Linked DNA regions of Homo sapiens. The protein of the gene in region 1 interacts with the protein of each later gene in a pairwise test. Each region holds a gene or a part of one and is shown in the gene's direction. Other genes may lie near its edges.

The links.
Region 2: the proteins of SLC67A1 (region 1) and TLCD4 interact in binary tests that used the Homo sapiens proteins (3 or more experiments, as listed by UniProt).

The regions. Positions count from the first base shown.
Region 1 is NC_000011.10:2,919,045-2,922,596, forward strand, and holds part of SLC67A1 (solute carrier family 67 member A1), read left to right. Parts: intron 1-262; coding exon 263-363; intron 364-672; coding exon of another isoform or gene 673-714; exon of another isoform or gene 715-2,746; intron 2,747-3,057; coding exon 3,058-3,159; intron 3,160-3,391; coding exon 3,392-3,512; intron 3,513-3,552. UniProt on the Homo sapiens protein: May act as a transporter of organic cations based on a proton efflux antiport mechanism. May play a role in the transport of chloroquine and quinidine-related compounds in kidney. Plays a role in the regulation of lipid metabolism.
Region 2 is NC_000001.11:95,144,695-95,148,512, forward strand, and holds part of TLCD4 (TLC domain-containing protein 4), read left to right. Parts: intron 1-3,818.

The DNA.
Region 1 (3,552 bases):
CCCTGGGTCCCTCCCTTCCAGCACCTTCCTGCTCACAGTCCAGAGCTTAGCAACCACACGAGAGGCACTTTCCACACCAGGGATACGGCAGAATCCCAGGGAAGGGTCTCATTGGCCCGGCTGGCATCACAGGCCCCTCCCTGAACCAGTCACCAGCCAGGGCCCAGACACCCTGATTGGCCAGGCTGCTGAGGCGGGAGGGAGGTGGGCGCCAAGGTCGGGGTGTGGGGGTACTCACCCCTGTTCCCCTGCCCCGGCTCAGGGCTCTTCATGGTCATGTTCTCCATCATCTCCATGGACTTCTTCCAGCTGGAGGCCGCCCAAGCTGGCTACCTCATGTCCTTCTTCGGGCTCCTCCAGATGGTGAGTGGGCACACAGGGCCTGCTGGGGGGCACGGCAGGGGTCTCCAGTGGGGCAGGCCTCTGAGAGTAGAGGCTCCTCCCCGGCGGAGGCTGGGGAGCCCTTGGCCTCCCATCTGGCACATGTCAGGGTCCACAGGGAACCAGGCATACAGGCCAGGGAGGGAGAGCCAACTGCAGTGGTGGGCACGCTGTGAGGACAGTGGACTCCGGCCTCTGATGGGCAGCTGGCTGGGATCTGTGGCAGCCCACCTGCCCACCAGCTGTGTGACCAGAGCAAGTCTCCCAAACTCTCCAAATCTGTCCCATGAGGCCAAAGTGCCCGCCTTGCAGGGTCCTTGGCAGATGAGATGACCTAACGTGGCAAAGTGGTTAGACCAGCGTGGGCCCCTTTGGAGGTCCCATAGGAGCAAGACGCCAGCCCTCAGAGGCCACGCTGTCATGGTAGGATAAGACGCCAGCCCTCAGAGGCCACACTGTCATGGAAGGATGCCCTGAAACCCTGGCAGCTCCGATGCGGCAGGTGTCTGTCTGCCAGCCCCCCAGAACCGCTCAGCTCCCGGGCCGGGGCGAGACACCTCCACCACCAGCTCCTCTGGGCTTCTGGACCAGACCCTGGGTGGTGGGGACAGGTGATGATTTGCCACCACCCAGGATGGCTGCCTGACAGCCAGAGTGCGGGGCGGGGGGGCTATTCTGGGACCCGCCAGGGTGGGGGTGGGGGCTCTCGGCCTCTCCGGAAGCCTGTGGCATTCCTGGCACCTCCAAGCCATCTGCTCTTCAGCCTCTGGGCCCAGGACTAGACTAGTGCTAAAATAGCTGCTCCTGGGAGGGGCTGGACCCCCACCGTGGGCAGAGAGGGCCTCTGCTTTTTGGGGCAGGAGGGGCCACCCTGGCAGGGTAAAAAGAGATAAACAGAAAAACAACAGCAACAATAATAGTAACAATCCGGGGTTGTTGCCATGGGGCCTGTTCTGAACAGGCTGCGCCCAGCTCACTGCGAGGAAGGACGCTTAGCCAGGCCCTGGCTGAAGCCTGCAGCTGGGCTGGACACAGCAGTCATTGGCCTGTGTTGTGGGGGACTTGGGCCTGCCATGGCTGCAGTGGGGACCCTGCCTGAGACAGACAGAGCTGGGGTGGTGACCAACACCGTCGGGGCACCCTCGCAGGAACTGGGCCTGGTGAACTGCCCAGGGACGGGGAAGGAGCAGGGTGAGGCATGGGGACCCCGACACAGGTTGAGCAGCGGGAGAGGAGGCTGAGGAGGGGAAGGAGGGGGCCCGCAGAGTAGCCCCCAGACCCCAAGTCCGGTCAGGGACAAGCTTGTTAGCTCCAGGTTCATGTCACAACCTGCAGGGCTCCTAAGTTCAAGCTTTTTTAAACTTAATGGGCAAACTGAGACGCAACACAAATAGGCTTCTGACCTTGGTGTCTGAGTCCTGGATCTGAAGTCCTTCACGGCACTCACTGTGAGCCCCTCTTAGACGCACTGCACGAAGTGAGCTTGCCAGCTCTTCCTTTAAGAAACGTGTTAGGCCGGGCGCGGTGGCTCACGCCTGTAATCCCAGCACTTTGGGAGACCGAGGCGGGCGGATCCCAAGGTCAGGAGATTGAGACCATCCTGGCGAACATGGTGAAACCCCGTCTCTACCAAAAATACAAAAAAAAAAAAAAAAATTAGCCGGGCCTGGTGGCAGGCACCTGTAGTCCCAGCTACTCGGGAGGCTGACGCAGGAGAATGGCGTGAACCCGGGAGGCGGAGCTTGCAGTGAGCCGAGATCGCGCCACTGCAGTCCACGCTGGGCGACAGAGCGAGACGCCATCTCAAAAAAAAAAAAAAAAAAGGTGTTAAAATCCCAAAAAACCCTAAGATAAAGCAAGTGTGAAAGTAAGATTTTTAAACCATTTATGGTTCCGGTTGGAAGCAGTTTCTGTTCTGCCTGGCAGGAATTTGGGAGGGTGACTGGTCCCCTGCAGAGGTGCTGCAGGCTGGGCCTGCCCTGTGGGCAGATACTGAGCCCAGGGGCTCCTCCAGCCGGGGCCACCCCTGCACTCCCAGGCGCGTTGGCCCAGCACGCCCTGCTTAGTGGAGGAGCTGAGATGACCAGATAGAGAGCCTCGCCCTGGCCTGGGAGCAGCCTGCGGCCAAGCCTGTCCCACCGAGCCCATCCCCGGGAGCAGCCTGCGGCCGAGCCTGTCCCACCGAGCCCATCCCCGGGAGCAGCCTGCGGCCGAGCCTGTCCCACCGAGCCCATCCCCGGGAGCAGCCTGCGGCCGAGCCTGTCCCACCGAGCCCATCCCCGGGAGCAGCCTGCGGCCGAGCCTGTCCCACCGAGCCCATCCCCGGGAGCAGCCTGCGGCCGAGCCTGTCCCACCGAGCCCATCCCCGGGAGCAGCCTGCGGCCGAGCCTGTCCCACCGAGCCCATCCCCGGTGTCCCTGGTGTGGGCCTTTCCTTCCTCCCTTGTGGAGAGGAGCCCCGACTCCTCAGGGATCTCAGACCCATCCTGACGCAGTCACTGCTGGCGGAGTAGGGAGAGACCCCGGGGCTTGCAGATGCTGAGGGGCCTTCTCTGCAGAGGGGCCCTGGCCACCACAGGCCAGTCTGGAGGTCCCCAGCTTTGGGGGCTGGCCACAGTCCAGACGCCCCTCCCTCGCCTCCCCCATACCCACTTCTACCCTCTCTGTCTGGCTCTAGGTGACCCAGGGCCTGGTCATCGGGCAGCTGAGCAGCCACTTCTCGGAGGAGGTGCTGCTCCGGGCCAGCGTGCTGGTCTTCATCGTGGTGGGCCTGGCCATGGTGAGGGCTCCCCGCTTTGGGCCCACTCACCTGACCCTCTCACTGGGCAAGGCCACCTGGGCGGTACCATCTGTGCTTAAGCCCTTGGGGACTCCTCCAGCCCCCCACACCCACCCGGGGCCAGCTCTTCAGCAGGGACAGCAGTCAGGGTGGGGAGGGACAGGTAAGACCCCAGAGAGGAGCCTGGTCCCGTGAGGCCCCCACTCAGCTCGGCCCCCGCCTGCCGTCCCAGGCCTGGATGTCCAGCGTCTTCCACTTCTGCCTCCTGGTGCCCGGCCTGGTGTTCAGCCTCTGCACCCTCAACGTGGTCACCGACAGCATGCTGATCAAGGCTGTCTCCACCTCGGACACAGGTGAGTGTGGCCAGCGAGTGGAGCAGCCTCCTCCAGGAAG
Region 2 (3,818 bases), on another chromosome or scaffold:
TTATTTATTTTTTTGAGACAGAGTCCCGTTCTGTCGCCCAGGCTGGAGTGCAGTGGTGAAATCTTGGCTCGCTGCAACCTCTGCCTCCCAGGTTCCAGTGATTCTCCTGCCTCAGCTTCCTGAGTAGCTGGGATTACAGGCATGCGCCACCATGCCAAGCTAATTTTTGTGTTTTTAGTAGAGACAGGGTTTCACTAGGTTGGCCAGGCTGGTCTTGAACTCCTGACCTCAGGTGATCCACCCACCTTGCCCTCCCAAAGTGCTGGGATTACAGGCATGAGCCACTGCACCCTGCCAGAGTTTTAAAAAGTTGGTTGCAATTTTTTTGTGTGTGTACAACTTATTAATCTCACAAGATTTCAAACACAAAATGGCTCTGATGACTTCTTCACGTGCTTTAGAGCATTTTATGTCCCCAAACATCACTGTGCATTTGTAAACCTCAGTGAGTCAGAGCAGCCGTGGCCTTATTTTTTGTTGTTGCTATTTAGTTGAAGTTAATACTAACCATAAAATGGATTCAGCAAGTCTCTAAAGTTTGCTATAATTATCTTTCATTGAAATTTCCTTTTAAAATTCAAGAAATTCTGTCAGTGTCTGAGTATTTATTTGAGAATGGTCATATTTGATTTGAAATTCCCTTTGAACCAAATTGTTTTGCAGGCATCTACTTTTATGATTCAGACTGTGAATTTAATAAGACTCTAGTTGTTTTTTTTTGTACTTTACAGTGATGTATCGGGTTCATACATGTCAAAGTTCTTTTCACCCAAAAAGCAAGAATTATTTCTCCACATATTTTCAAAAAATAAGCAGTATGATTATTTTGTCTTAAGACTAGCACAAAAATATTGTTCAAATGCATTATACTAGAGATACCATTACTTTAAAAAATCTTTTCTAACATATGAAGATAGATGGAATGGTAGGAAAGAGAAGGGGGTACATACGTTCTCTGATTAAATGTTGAACTATTTTCATTTCCTCTTTCCTGTGGTTAGGATAGGTAAAGGCATTTGAATGTTAGGTAGCTGCAAGTCAGAGAAATAGGAAAGGGTACAGAGAGATGGAAGCCAAGATGAAAATGAAATGAAATTGAAGAATATTTTGCATTATCTAGTCTTATCACTGCCATTCTATGACACAGGAAATACCATTTGGGAAACTGAATTTCTATTTGAAAAAGGAGTCTGGGATTATATAAAATTCATTTAGGTATTCAGTGGTGTTTTCTCTTTTTCTCAAGTTTGCTCCTGCTTCTCACTCCAGCTTTTTTTACAAAGGACTTAAGCTGTAAGGTGGAGAGTGCAAAGTAGGACAAGGAGGCTGTATTTTGAGTAAAATATGTATAAATGTCTTAAAATTCAGCTTCCAGTTTGAAACATACAGGTAAACACACATAATTCTTTCTAGTGATCAGGAAAGAGTCTCTAAACATGAGTTGAGAGTGGTCTGAGCCATCTAGTATAAAAAGAAATGGAGGAGAAAAAATCACTGGAAATGCCCATTTGAGAGACAACAGTTTAGTTAAAAGTGAGAAATTGTTGTACTGAATTGTTACTTTTTCTGAAAACGTGTATACTTACAGGTGCTACATCTTATAATGTAAAAAAATTTTCTTAATTACTTATATTCACTTTCTTACCTATCACATTGAAAGTCTTATTGTGTTGAAATACTACTAATTTTTAAATGTTTCTCTAAAATTTAGCTGAGTTATATAATTTCTGTTGGCAATATTTACACTACTTGTGATTAGTAACTTAAAATTGCTATTCTAAAATAGTCATTAATCATTTCCTTAGAGTGCTATCCCTTTATATGCACAAACATTTCTTTTCCACCCTCTTTGAAAAAAAATTGAAATATTTTATCTTGGGTAATATCTTGGAATTTCTTTTTAGATACTAAGGAATCTAAATTTTCCTTTGCTAGGAATCTGATTTTAAATAATAAAATATAAAATTTTTATTAACAGAAGTTTCTGAAACTATAGTATAGACTTTTAATACAGAATAGTGTATGAGTGAGGGCAGGGTATTTGTTTTTCCTCCTCATTACAGAGGGAGATATTTGATTGGACCAAGTAATATTTAACTTTTCTGTACTGAATCATACACCATTTCCATCAGCTGAGGGCTTAGAATGCTTTCCATTTACCACATAACATCTCAAAAGAGAAGTGAATCTGAGGCCTGAGTGTCAGAAATAAAAAGTTAGGTTTTTCAAAAGGGAGCTTTCTGACTATGGTTACCAAACAGTAAAACAAGTTTGTAAGAGAGATTATATATTTTTAAATTTTATATAATTTTTGAATAGCAATAGAGAGTGGGCTGTATGACCATTTAAATGGAGTATTTTATTTTATATCAAGGAATTTAATTTTTTTTTTTTTTTGAGACAGAGTGTCGCTCTGTTGCCCAGGCTGGAGTACAGTGGTGCAATCTCCACTCACTGAAACCTTTGCCTCCCAGGTTCAAGTGATTCTTGTGCCTCAGCCTCCCGAGTAGCTGGGATTACAGGTGTGTACCACCATACCCAGCTAATTTTTGTATTTTTGGTAGAGATGGAATTTCACCATGTTGACCAGGCTGGTCTCAAACTCCTGACCTCAGGTGACCCGCCCACCTTGGCCTCCCAAAGTGCTGGGATTACAGGTGTGAGCCACCATGCCCGGCCAAGGAATTTACATTTTTATCCTGTGCTCAAGGTGTGCTTGGCATGAAAATTATAGACTTGTAAACCAGATAAATTGGATTAATTATTCACATTTCAAAATGATTCTTAGGTATTATAAATGATACTTGGTCAATGCCTTTAAATTGGTGAGAATCTTTGCTTATTTAAAATATGGCTTGATTTAGCATGATACATCTATTTTGTAACACACTATTAGGTCAAGTATATTGGTTTCTAAAGTTACAATGAAATTTTCTGATACCAAACCTAATATTAGTTGATATATTTTACTTTTAAAGATTTGGGATCATATTGTAGAGAAAAATTTATTGCACACCAGTAATTTTTAGAGAGAAAACTTTGCTGTACCTCTCATTTTTTATCCTAATGAAGTTTCATTACTTGTGAACTTCTCAATAAAGATGTGAGAAATCTGAAATTGTTGGGTAAAAAAACTTTATTGTATGGATGAATACACAGTATCCTAAGTATAGTTCTCTAAGTAACATAGAGCTTGGGAATTAGTCACATCATTAAATTTATTAACAAGATATATTCATAGAAACTTATGGTTTTTATGTTAAACTTATTCCTTCTATACAAGAAAACTTGACCTGGATCTTGAGAACATTGTGCTTTCACTTGGGTATTTCTTTTAAAAACAAATTTTCCGTATACATTTATGGTCCTCAATTTTTCTATTTAGAAATGTTTTCATAATAATGATAAAGAGGGACTAATAATAGCTACCCTTGTTTTCTTACAAATTTGTTACAAGAATCAAGTGCAATAGTGCATGTCAACGTACTTTAAAAACTGAAGCCTCCCAAGATAATAAATCTTCATATCATGATCCATTCGAATTGTTTTAAGGATATGGAGTTTGTTAAAGCCAGTAGATCTGGAAGTCATTCCCAGCTGATTGGAGCAGGAAACTTATCCTGCATTGATGCTGTTGGGGCTGGAGCTTGGAGCCAAGGGTAGTGGCCTTGCCAGTTGCCATCTGGCTGCACAAAAGTCTGTCAGCTGCATCATCATGTATGCATTTATCTGTCTTAGAACTTTTAACCAATAAGTGATTCACCAGTTCTCTAGCAGGAAATTGTAGGCCTTGGTATCTTCCTCCTTCTTTATTCCAA